3 linked regions of the Homo sapiens genome follow. The protein of the gene in region 3 interacts with the protein of the main gene of each other region in a biochemical or structural test. Each region holds a gene or a part of one and is shown on either strand. Other genes may lie near its edges. The genes, in order: RBL1, RBL2 and BRF1.

Evidence for each region.
Region 1: the proteins of BRF1 (region 3) and RBL1 form a complex in vitro, tested with the Homo sapiens proteins (one study listed by BioGRID).
Region 2: the proteins of BRF1 (region 3) and RBL2 form a complex in vitro, tested with the Homo sapiens proteins (one study listed by BioGRID).

What each region holds. Positions count from the first base shown.
Region 1 is NC_000020.11:37,029,946-37,033,596, reverse strand, and holds part of RBL1 (retinoblastoma-like protein 1), read left to right. Parts: intron 1-720; coding exon 721-932; intron 933-3,651. UniProt on the Homo sapiens protein: Key regulator of entry into cell division. Directly involved in heterochromatin formation by maintaining overall chromatin structure and, in particular, that of constitutive heterochromatin by stabilizing histone methylation.
Region 2 is NC_000016.10:53,468,846-53,472,496, forward strand, and holds part of RBL2 (retinoblastoma-like protein 2), read left to right. Parts: intron 1-1,070; coding exon 1,071-1,340; intron 1,341-1,537; coding exon 1,538-1,818; intron 1,819-1,900; coding exon 1,901-2,077; intron 2,078-3,651. UniProt on the Homo sapiens protein: Key regulator of entry into cell division. Directly involved in heterochromatin formation by maintaining overall chromatin structure and, in particular, that of constitutive heterochromatin by stabilizing histone methylation.
Region 3 is NC_000014.9:105,217,471-105,221,121, reverse strand, and holds part of BRF1 (transcription factor IIIB 90 kDa subunit), read left to right. Parts: intron 1-991; coding exon 992-1,053; intron 1,054-1,823; coding exon of another isoform or gene 1,824-1,889; coding exon 1,890-1,971; intron 1,972-2,068; coding exon 2,069-2,124; intron 2,125-3,321; coding exon 3,322-3,578; intron 3,579-3,651.

The sequences.
Region 1 (3,651 bases), on a different chromosome or scaffold from region 3:
ATGCCTGTAATCCTAGCATTTTGGGAGGCCAAGGCAGGCAGATGGCTTGAGCTGACGAGTTCGAGACTAACCTGGGCAACATGGCAAAACTCCCATCTCTAAAAAAAAAATACAAGCCGGGCACAGTAGCTCACTCCTGTAATCCCAGCACTTTGGGAGGCCGAGGAGGGCAGATCATGAGGTCAGGAGATCGAGACCATCCTGGCTAACATGGTGAAACCCTGTGTCTACTAAAAATATTTTAAAAATTAGCCGGGTGTGGTAGCATGTGCCTGTAGTTCCAGCTACTCAGGAGGCTAAGGCAGGAGAATTGAACCCGGGAGGCAGAGGTTGCAGTGAGCCGAGATCACGCCACTGCACTCCAGCCTGGGCGACAGAGCAAGACTCCATCTCAAAAAAAAAAAAAAAAAATTTACCAGGCATAGTGGCTTGCACCTGTAGTCTCAGCTATTTGCGGGGGTTGAAATGGGAGGATCACTTGAGCCCAGGAGGTCGAGGCCACAGTGAGCTGAGATGGCGCCACTGCACTCCAGCCTGAGTGACCAAGTGAGACCCTGTCTCAAAAAAAAAAAAAAAAAGAATTCAGTCATAACCTAGAATTACTATTTTGTAGCCTTCTTATACACACAGATATATGTATATATAATTGTCAAAATATATATAGTTGACAACTTTCCTAGAACATATGCAGATTATTTCTAATAATGCTTATACATTCAGGTGTCGCAAATGATGCTGGAGAGATCACACTGATACCTCTTTCCATGAATACAAATCAGGAGTCCAAAGTCAAGAGTCCTGTATCACTTACTGCTCATTCATTAATTGGTGCTTCTCCAAAACAGACCAATCTGACTAAAGCACAAGAGGTACATTCAACTGGAATAAACAGGCCAAAGAGAACTGGGTCCTTAGCACTATTTTACAGAAAGGTATGTGTTTTTATAGCACTTTAGAAGAATTTGTTTAATCAATGGAAGAAAGATTGAGTAACAGAGACAGACTTTGGTCTTTTTTTTTTCTAATATACATAACACAAAATTTACCATTTTAACCATTTTTAAGTGTACAGTTCAATGGTATTAAATACATTCACATTGTTGTGCAGCTTTATTACTACCGTCTATCTCCAGAACTTTTTCGTCTTCCCATTCTGAAATTCTGTATCCATTTCTCCCTTTCCCCAGCTTCTGGCAACTACTATTCTACTTTCTGTTTCTGTGAATTTGACTACTCTAGGTTCTTCCTATGAGTGAAGTCATACGATATTTGTTTGTTTTTGTGACTGGCTTAGCGTAATGTCTTCTAGGTTCATTCATATTATAGCTTGTGCCAGAATTTCCTTCCTTTTCAAGGCTGAATAATATTCCATTGTATGAAGAAGAGAAAAAAAGAACAAAAGAAAAAATATTCCATCATATGAATATACTTTTTTTTAATACCACATTTTGTTTATTCATTCATCTGCTGATGGGCATTTGGGTTGCTTCTACCTTTTGGCTATTGTGAGTTATGCTGCTATGAACATTTGTGTACAGGTGTCTGTTCAAACCAGGCGTGGTTGCTCATGCCTGTAAACCCAGCACTTTATGAGGCCGAGGCAGGAGGATCACTTGAACCCAGGGGTTTGAGACCACCCTGGGCGACACAGTGAGACCCTATCTCTATTTTAAAAAAAAAAAAAAAAAAAAGCAGCCAGGTATGGTGGCAGATGCCTATAGTCTTGGCTATTTTGGAGGCTGAGGTGGGAGGATCACATGAGCCCAGGAGGTTGAGGCTACAGTGAGTCGAGATCACACCACTGCGCTCCAGCCTGGGCAACAGAACGAGGCCCTGTCTTAAGAAGAAAAAAAAATAGCAACAAATATCTATTCAAGTCTCTGCTTTCAATTCCTTTGGGTATATTCCCAGAAATGGGAGAGTAATTTAGTATTTCATTTTCTGAGGAACCACCGTACCATTTTCCACAGTGGGTGGACCATTTTACATTACCACTAGCAAGGCACAAGTGTTCCAAGTTCTTCTCATCGTTGCCAACGTTTCGTGTTTTCTGGTTTGTTTGTTTTTTTGATAATGGCCATCCAATGGGTATAAAGAGACATCTTACTATAGTTTCAATTTTCATTTCCCTAATGATTAGTAATATTGAGTATCTTTTCATGTGCTTTTGCCCATCTATATATCTTCATTATAGAAATGTCTATTCGAGTCTTTTGCCCATTTTTTTAATTATGAGTTTTGGGTTTTGTTTTTGTTAAATTGTAGGAGTTCTTTATGTATTCTAGATATTAATCTCCTATAAAATATACTATTTACAAGTATTTTCTCCCATTCTGTGGGTTGCCTTTTCATTCCGTTGATAGTGTTCTTGACACATGAAAGTTTTTAATCTTAATAAAGTCAATTTATTCTTTTCATTTTTTGTCTGTGCTTTTGGTGTCATACACAAGAAATCATTGCCAAATCCAGTATTATAAAACTTTTCCCCTATGTTTTCGTCTAAGAGTTTTATAGTTTTTAGCTCTTATATTTATTATGTCTATTTTTTTTTGAGACAGAGTCTCACTTTATCACCCAGGCTGGAGTGCAGTCACGCAGTCACAGCTCACTGCAGCCTCCGCCTCCCAGGTTCAGATGATCCTCCCACCTCGACCCTCTGAGCAGCTAGGACTACAGGCATGTGCCACCATGCCCAGCTAATTTTCGTTTTTTGGGTTTTTTGTTTTTGTTTTTTTTTTTTTTGAGACAGAGTCTCACTCTGTTGCCCAGGCTGGAGTGCAGTAGCGCAATCTCGGCTCACTGCAACCCCTGCCTCCCGGGTTCAAGCAATTCTCCTTTCTCAGCCTCCTGAGTAGCTGGGACTACAGGAATATGCCACCACGCCTGGCTAATTTTTGTATTTTTAGTAGAGACGAGGTTTCACCGTGCTGGTTTGGCTGGTTTCAAACTACTGACCTCAGGTGATCCACCCACCTTGGCCTCCCAAAGTGCTGGGATTACAGGTGTGAGCCACCACGCCGGGCCTGTTTTTGAACTTTTTTGTAGAGACGGGGTTTCACCATGTTGCCCAGGCTGGTCTCAACTCGTGAGCTTAAGTGATCTGCCCACCTCAGCCTCCCAAAGTGCTGGGATTACAGCCGTGAGCCACCACGCCCAGCCCATTTTAATTTTTGTATATGGTGTTAGATAAGGGTCTAAAGTCATTCTTTTGCACATGGATATCCATTTTTCCCAGCACGATTTGTTGAAAGACTGCCCTTTCCCATTGAATGAGCTTAGAATCCTTGTTGAAAAGTCACTTGAGCATAGATATGGGGGTTTAATTCTGGGCTCTCTATTCTATTCATTGGACTATATGTCTATCTGTATTCAGTACCACACTGTTTTGATAACCATAGCTTTGTGTCATAAGTTTTAAAATCAGGAGGTGTGAGACCTCCAACTTTGTTTTTCTTTCTTAAGATTGTTTTAGCTATTTAAGATTTCTTGAGAGTCTGTATGAGTTTTAGGATGGATTTTTCTCTTTCTGCAAAAACATTGTGGAATTTTGACAGAGATTGCATTGAATATGGAGATCGCATTGGCTAGTGTTGACATCTTAAGAATGTCAAGTCTTCCAGTCCATGATCATAGGATGTCTTTTCATTTGCG
Region 2 (3,651 bases), on a different chromosome or scaffold from region 3:
TTGGTGTGAATACTTAAAAATAGACTAAGCCATAATGGGTTGTGTACCACTGAATCATACACTTAAAAATGGTTGAATGGTAAATTTTATGTTATATATATAACCACAATTTTAAAAAACTAGCCTGTAATACCAGCATTTTGGGAGGCCAAGGCGGGTGGATCACCTGAGGTCAGGAGTTCGAGACCAGCCTGGCCAACATGGTGAGACCTCATCTCTACTAAAAATACAAAAATTAGCCATGCCTTGTGGCATATGCCTCTAATCCCAGTTACTTGGGAGGCTGAGGCACAAGAATCACTTAAACCCAGGAGGCAGAGGTTGTAGTGAGCCGAGATCAGGCTACTGCACTCCAGCCTGGGTGATAGAGTAAGACTCTGTCTCAAAAAATAAAAAAAATAGTAACAATTTGCCCCAAACCATTGAATTGTATAATTTAAGTAGATGAAATTTATGGTATATAAACTGTTTTAAAAAAATAAATTATGCTTAACTGAATCCAAATCATGCATGTCCACCTTGCTTAAGAACATTATTGAGTTTTAATAATTTTTTATATGTGGAAAAAGACAGAGATCAAAATTGATAAAACCGGTGGCGGAATGCTCCTAGATGACATACTACCAATCAGGTCCCCTTATCAAGTAGTGGCTCTGTAGTAAAATCACATCTTACATGAGTGGTAGGTAGAAAGTGGATATGATAGAAAATATTATAGAAAAATATAATATAGAAAAATAGGGTAATTCCTTAAATTGCCCCTAAATCATGAAGGTTCTTTAGTAGTGGAAGACAGAGTCAGGTCTGATTTGGGAAAGGGGGCGTGGAGAAAGGAACACTGCAAGACAAAAAATTCCGTTTTAAAATTTTGCTCTCAGTAGTGTTCACTGAACACGAATGAAAGTTCACTAATGAATATAGGTAAGATATGACTTCTGTAATTCTTGTTTGCTTTTTGAATTATGAAGTATTTCAAACACTGTAGTTATTTTTTAACATAAGAGCTTGGACGGAAGTCAGATCTGAGTCTCCTTGAGTTAAATGCTTTGTTTGATTTGTTTTGACCCTAGGCATAACATCTCCAACCACATTATACGATAGGTACAGCTCCCCACCAGCCAGCACTACCAGAAGGCGGCTATTTGTTGAGAATGATAGCCCCTCTGATGGAGGGACGCCTGGGCGCATGCCCCCACAGCCCCTAGTCAATGCTGTCCCTGTGCAGAATGTATCTGGGGAGACTGTTTCTGTCACACCAGTTCCTGGACAGACTTTGGTCACCATGGCAACCGCCACTGTCACAGCCAACAATGGGCAAACGGTAACCATTCCTGTGCAAGGTAAGGAAGGCAGAGTTGGATATTGAGTTCCTTCTCTGTGGCATGTATTGAAAAGTTACCCGAGGTTTGGCTAGAGTGACATAGGGGACAGAGGAGTGATGGGGAGAGAGGGTTTGGGAGAGCAGAAATTGTAAACCTCTGCCCGGAGAACCTCTTATTATCAACATTTTCTTCATGCTTTTTTTCTCTGTCACTAGGTATTGCCAATGAAAATGGAGGGATAACATTCTTCCCTGTCCAAGTCAATGTTGGGGGGCAGGCACAAGCTGTGACAGGCTCCATCCAGCCCCTCAGTGCTCAGGCCCTGGCTGGAAGTCTGAGCTCTCAACAGGTGACAGGAACAACTTTGCAAGTCCCTGGTCAAGTGGCCATTCAACAGATTTCCCCAGGTGGCCAACAGCAGAAGCAAGGCCAGTCTGTAACCAGCAGTAGTAATAGACCCAGGAAGACCAGCTCTTTATCGCTTTTCTTTAGAAAGGTAATTTTTCACATACCTTATCAGAGCATGAGCTTGGGAAATACAAGTGTTAAACAAAGTTTGAAATGTTTTTATCTCCTAGGTATACCATTTAGCAGCTGTCCGCCTTCGGGATCTCTGTGCCAAACTAGATATTTCAGATGAATTGAGGAAAAAAATCTGGACCTGCTTTGAATTCTCCATAATTCAGTGTCCTGAACTTATGATGGACAGACATCTGGACCAGTTATTAATGTGTGCCATTTATGTGATGGCAAAGGTGAGTACCATTTGGAATTGTAAAGGCAAAGATAGGTCTTCATTACTGAGAACATTTTTTAACCACTGTCTTGAGATACAGTTTACATGCTCTATAATTCACCTATTTAAAATGCACAACTAAATGGGTCTTAGTATATTCACAGATATGTGCAATACTCACCACAATTTTAGAACATAATATTCCATTGTATAGTTATATGAGAGTATTTTTATCCATTTATTAGCTAATGTATATTTTAGTTGTTTCTACTTTTGGCATATATGCATAATACCACTATTAGCATTTGTGTTTGGGTTTTTGTATAGACATGTATTTTCATTTCTCTAGGGTATATACCTAGGAATGGGCTGCTGGGTCATACATTAACTGTGTTTTAACTATTTAGGGAATTGCTAGATTGTTTTCCAAAGTACTGTACCATTTTACACTTACACAGCAGTATAATAAAGATTTTAGTTTCTCCACTATCTCATTAACACTTACTATCTTACTTTGTTTAAATAACTTATTGAGGAGAAATTCACATAACATAAAATTAATTGGGTTTTTCTTTTTTTTTTTGAGATGTTGTTTCATTCTTGTCACCCAGGCTGGAGTGCAGTGGTGCATCTCAGCTCACTGCAACCTCTGCCTCCCAGGTTCAAGCGATTCTCCTGTCGTAGCCTCCCGAGTAGCTGGGATTACAGCCATGTGCCACCATGCCTGGCTAATTTTTGCATTTTTAGTAGAGATGGGGTTTGACCATGTTGGCCAGGCAGGTCTCAAACTCCTGACCTCAGGTGATCTGCCCACCTCGGCCTCCCAAAGTGCTGGGATTACAGGCATGAGCCACTGGGCCCAGCCAAATTAACTATTTTAAGTTGAACAATTTAGGAGCATTTAGCACATTTACAGTACTAAGTGTAATAAATGGTTGTATACTCACCACCTCTGTCTAGTTCCAGAACATTTCCGTACCTGCAAAGTAAAACTCCTTTCCTATTAAGTAGTTTCTCCCCATTCTACCTCCCACAGCACCTGGCAACCAGCAGTTGGCATTCTGGCTGTATGGATTTATCTGTTCTTAATCGTTTATAGAAATGGTACAATATGTGACCTCTTGTGTATGGCTCCTTTTACTTAGGATAATATTTTCCAGGTTTACCCATGTTGCAGCATGTATCAGTACTTCATTCCTTTTTATGACTGAATGATATTCCATTGTATGGATAGGCACAATTTTTTTCTCCACTCATACACTGATGGATATTTGGGCTGTTTCCAACTGTTGGCTATAGTGAATAGCACTGTTGTGAACAGGTATATCATGTACCTGTTTGAGTGCCCATTTTCAGTCCTTTTGAGTTTATTCCTAGGAGTGGAACTGCAGGGTCATATGGTGATACTATGTTTAACTTTTTTGAAGAACCACCGTACCATTTTCCACAGAAGCTGCACCATTTGACATTGCTACCAGTAATGCACAAGAGTTCCAGTTTCTCCACATCCTTGCCAACTTATTATTTTTATTATAGCCATCTTAGCGGGTATTGGGTGATATATCATTGTGGTTTTGATTTTCATTTGCCTGA
Region 3 (3,651 bases):
GAGCCTAGACCTTCCTGCAACGCTTCACCCTCAAGCCCTGCCTCCCGTCGGGCACCAGGGCCTGGCCTCTGTGTGAGGAGCCAGGCGAATGTTTATCAAGTGATATCTGGGCCGGGGTAGAGACAATCCTGATGGTTGGGGCTGCTGTGTGGGTGGAACCCAGGCGAGTCACACAGAGCAACAGGCAGAGGGGACATGCACAGGCCCTGGGGCAGCCAGCGGCACAGTGACCCTGAGCAGAAAGGGCCATTCTGGCTGGAGCTGAGGAAGGGCTGCCTGTGAGTGCTGAGAGGAGCCGTCTCTGGCCTCGGCCCTGGAGCAGCATGGCAGGAGAGCACCTCAGACAGTCTGGCCCTGTGCTGGAGTTGACTTGGCAGCACGGGGCAGGCAGCTATGGCGTGGGGCTGTGGCAAGGAGAGGCTGTCCCAATTCCAGGCTGTGCAGATGCTGCCTGGACTGCGTGGGGCTGGGCAGGGGTGACAGGCAGGTTTTGGGGTGTCCTGAGCATGATCATGGAGGGCTCCCTCAGGCCTGGACTCCGGAATCATTTCTATTCCCTCATTTCTATCCCCAGACCTATGGGCTCAGTGATGGGGAGCTGGCTCCCCTGAGCACAGACCCCCATCTCACTCCGTGGCCTGACCTTTCCTTCCTGCCCAGCTTCCGTGCCCTCCCTCGGTCTTTGGGGCCTGACAGCCTCTGTCTCCTGTTCTTAAAAAGTTGCTTTTTTACAAAAAGCACAGAAGTGCTGGGGTTTTCCTTTGCAGCTTCAGTTCAGTGTTCTGCTGGCTTCGCTTAGTGTCCTGAGCTAGGCATTTAAAGAGGTGCGGTCATGTGGGCAGACAGGGCGCGACCCACCAGTGCAGAGGAGGGGACGGGGTTCTAGAAAGCCCTTAGCCCAGACCCAGGGTCCTGAGCCAGCCCAGGTGGTGGCCACGCTCCTATAATCAGTGCTGGCCCTGAGTGACGCGGATGCTGTGCTTCCCTCCAGAAGATGCTTCAGGAGACGGTGAGCTGGACCTCAGTGGCATTGATGACCTGGAGATTGACAGGGTACGTGGCAGCACCCCTTCCCAAGAGGGGCTGGGCTTGGGAGGGCGCTGCAGCCCAAGGAGCCCTGAGTGGTCGGGCGGGGTTGGCCACCTCCCCTGCCCAGAGCCCACCCCGCTGGGTGAAGTGGGCTCCTGGCCTTCTGGCCACTGTTCCCGGGACCCCCCCCCACACTCTCTTCTCCAGTGTCGGCTCGGGGGCGGCCTGTCGAGAGGCCCCTGGCTTTGCGCCTGGTCCTTGCGGCCCTCGGCACATAGCCTGCAGCAGGCACACATCGCACAAATAGCACCAGGGGCAGCCCCTCGAGGGGTCTCTAGACACAAGAGGGCACCCACTGACTCCACATGCGCTGTGCGCCCCCAAACCCCAGGGCTTCCAGCCATTGGGACCAGCTCTTTGCAGTTTATCTCAATATACTTGCCCTCTGTCAGGCAGGAAGTCGTCTTCCCTGATTTCATGGCCACGTGGTGCCTCAGACCCCTCCAGCCTGGCCCATCTGTACCTGAGTGGGAGGCTCTCACCCTCACTTGGCCCCTTTGTGGGAACCTGTGGCCTGCACTCTGGCTGGCCAGGGTCCTGGTGCCGGCAGGGCTTGCAAGCTGCCCTAGGGGGTCTCACACATGTGGCCTGCGTGGTTGGCCTTGGGACAGGCCACAGAGCAACAGGTCCCCAACTCGCCCCGCGCGATGAGGCCTCAGCCCAGGCTCCGCACTAAATAGAGGCTGCCCCGGGTTCCCCTTCCTCTAACGGTGGAAATACTTCCCGCTGGCCAGCGCGACCTTAGCATGCCCCGGTGTGCGAAGGCTAAAAGCCAGCCCCACTTCCCTGTGCTCGCCCAGTACATCCTGAATGAGTCGGAAGCCCGCGTGAAGGCCGAGCTGTGGATGAGGGAGAACGCCGAGTACCTGCGGGAACAGAGGGGTAAGCGCCACCCGCCCACACTCACACGCAGGACGCACAGTCCCCAGGCCTGGGGCGTGGGCCCTCAGTGACGCTGGCCCCCTTTCTGAACTTTTAGAAAAAGAAGCAAGAATAGCGAAAGAGAAGGAGCTCGGCATCTACAAGGAACACAAGGTGGGCGCCTGTGACGCTGGGCCTGGCCTTCTTGGGGGTGTCCAGGTTACGGGGGGCAAATGTCTCTGGAATGTCCCTTCCCCATGTGACAGGAGGGTCTAGGCCCCAGGGCAGGCAGCCGGAGGCCATGTGCTCTGGACCCCAGACCCACGTCCTTAACCACTAGGTCCTGCCCCGTGCTGGCCACAGGCGCCCAGCCGTCGGCCTCACCTTGGAGGGCGTGTGCTCAGCTTTGGGGTAACCTTCTGGATGCAGCACCGGGGCAGACTGTCGAGACTCGGGGCTGGACGCTGGGGTCCCTGCCTGTGTTAACGGGTTTGCTCTTCTGACGCCCTGGGAAAGTCCGACTGTCATGCCTCCCTGCCTTGTGGCCGTCACGGTGACTTGCTCTGCCAGCTTACTCTCTGGCGGAATGTGCCTTCAGCCTCGTGGTGCAGGCAGCAGTGGTTGAGCCTCTGAGTGACTGAGCAGGAGAAAACACGGGGAGCCAGTTCCCTGCCTGCGAGACTGGGGTCCCTCAGACGAAGCTGGAGGTGGCTGGGATGGCAGATGTGGGGCCTACCCGCTCAGCAGGACCCGGGGAGCTTGTGGTCAGAGAGTTAGGAGCCCAGGGACTCCACCCCACCCAGCAGCACGTCCCAGGCCTTGCTGGGCCACGCAGGAAGGTCATCGTGCAGCGGGGGGCAGCAGGGGTGGTGCAGGCTGATTGCCCTGAAGTGGTCTATGGCTCCAGCTCCTAGAAGGAGATCCAGGGTCTTCGGGCAGCTGGGGCCTTTGACGTGGGCAGCGGTGCTGGGGTGGATTGTCTGTCTTCACTGAGTAGCCATCTCTGCTGCAGCCCTCACAGTGCAGCAGCACATCGCCCTGCCGTGTGCATGTGGCCCTGCCCTGTGTGGGACCCAGGGGCAGCAGGGCCCTGAGCACCTGTGGCATGTTTGCTGCTGTTGCTGTCTGGAGGCCCTGCCAGCACCCATGCCAGGCCACGTGCCCCACTCACCTGGGAGGGCAGGATTTGACGTGGGCAGGCCCAGAGAGCACCAGGCTGGCCCACATTCTGGGGGGAGGAGGCAGGAGCGGCCCTTCTGAGGGCCTGAGCCAGGCCTCACCCGCCTGCACTCCTGGCCTCACGTGGAGCCCCTGATGGTGGAGTGCAGTGGGCGTGACTCACGGGAGGCATTCTTGCTTGTTTCCCTCAAGCCCAAGAAGTCTTGCAAGCGACGGGAGCCAATTCAGGCCAGTACCGCCAGGGAGGCCATCGAGAAGATGCTGGAGCAGAAGAAGATCTCCAGCAAGATCAATTATAGCGTGCTCCGGGGCCTCAGCAGCGCCGGCGGGGGCAGTCCGCACAGGGAGGATGCACAGCCCGAGCATAGCGCCAGTGCCAGGAAGCTGTCACGAAGGAGGACGCCGGCCAGCAGAAGTGGGGCTGACCCTGTGACCAGTGTGGGGAAAAGGTACCATCCTGTCCTGAGTGGCTGGGTTAGGGCAGCAGCCCAGGGCGGGCAGAGGCCCATGGCTTCGGGTCCT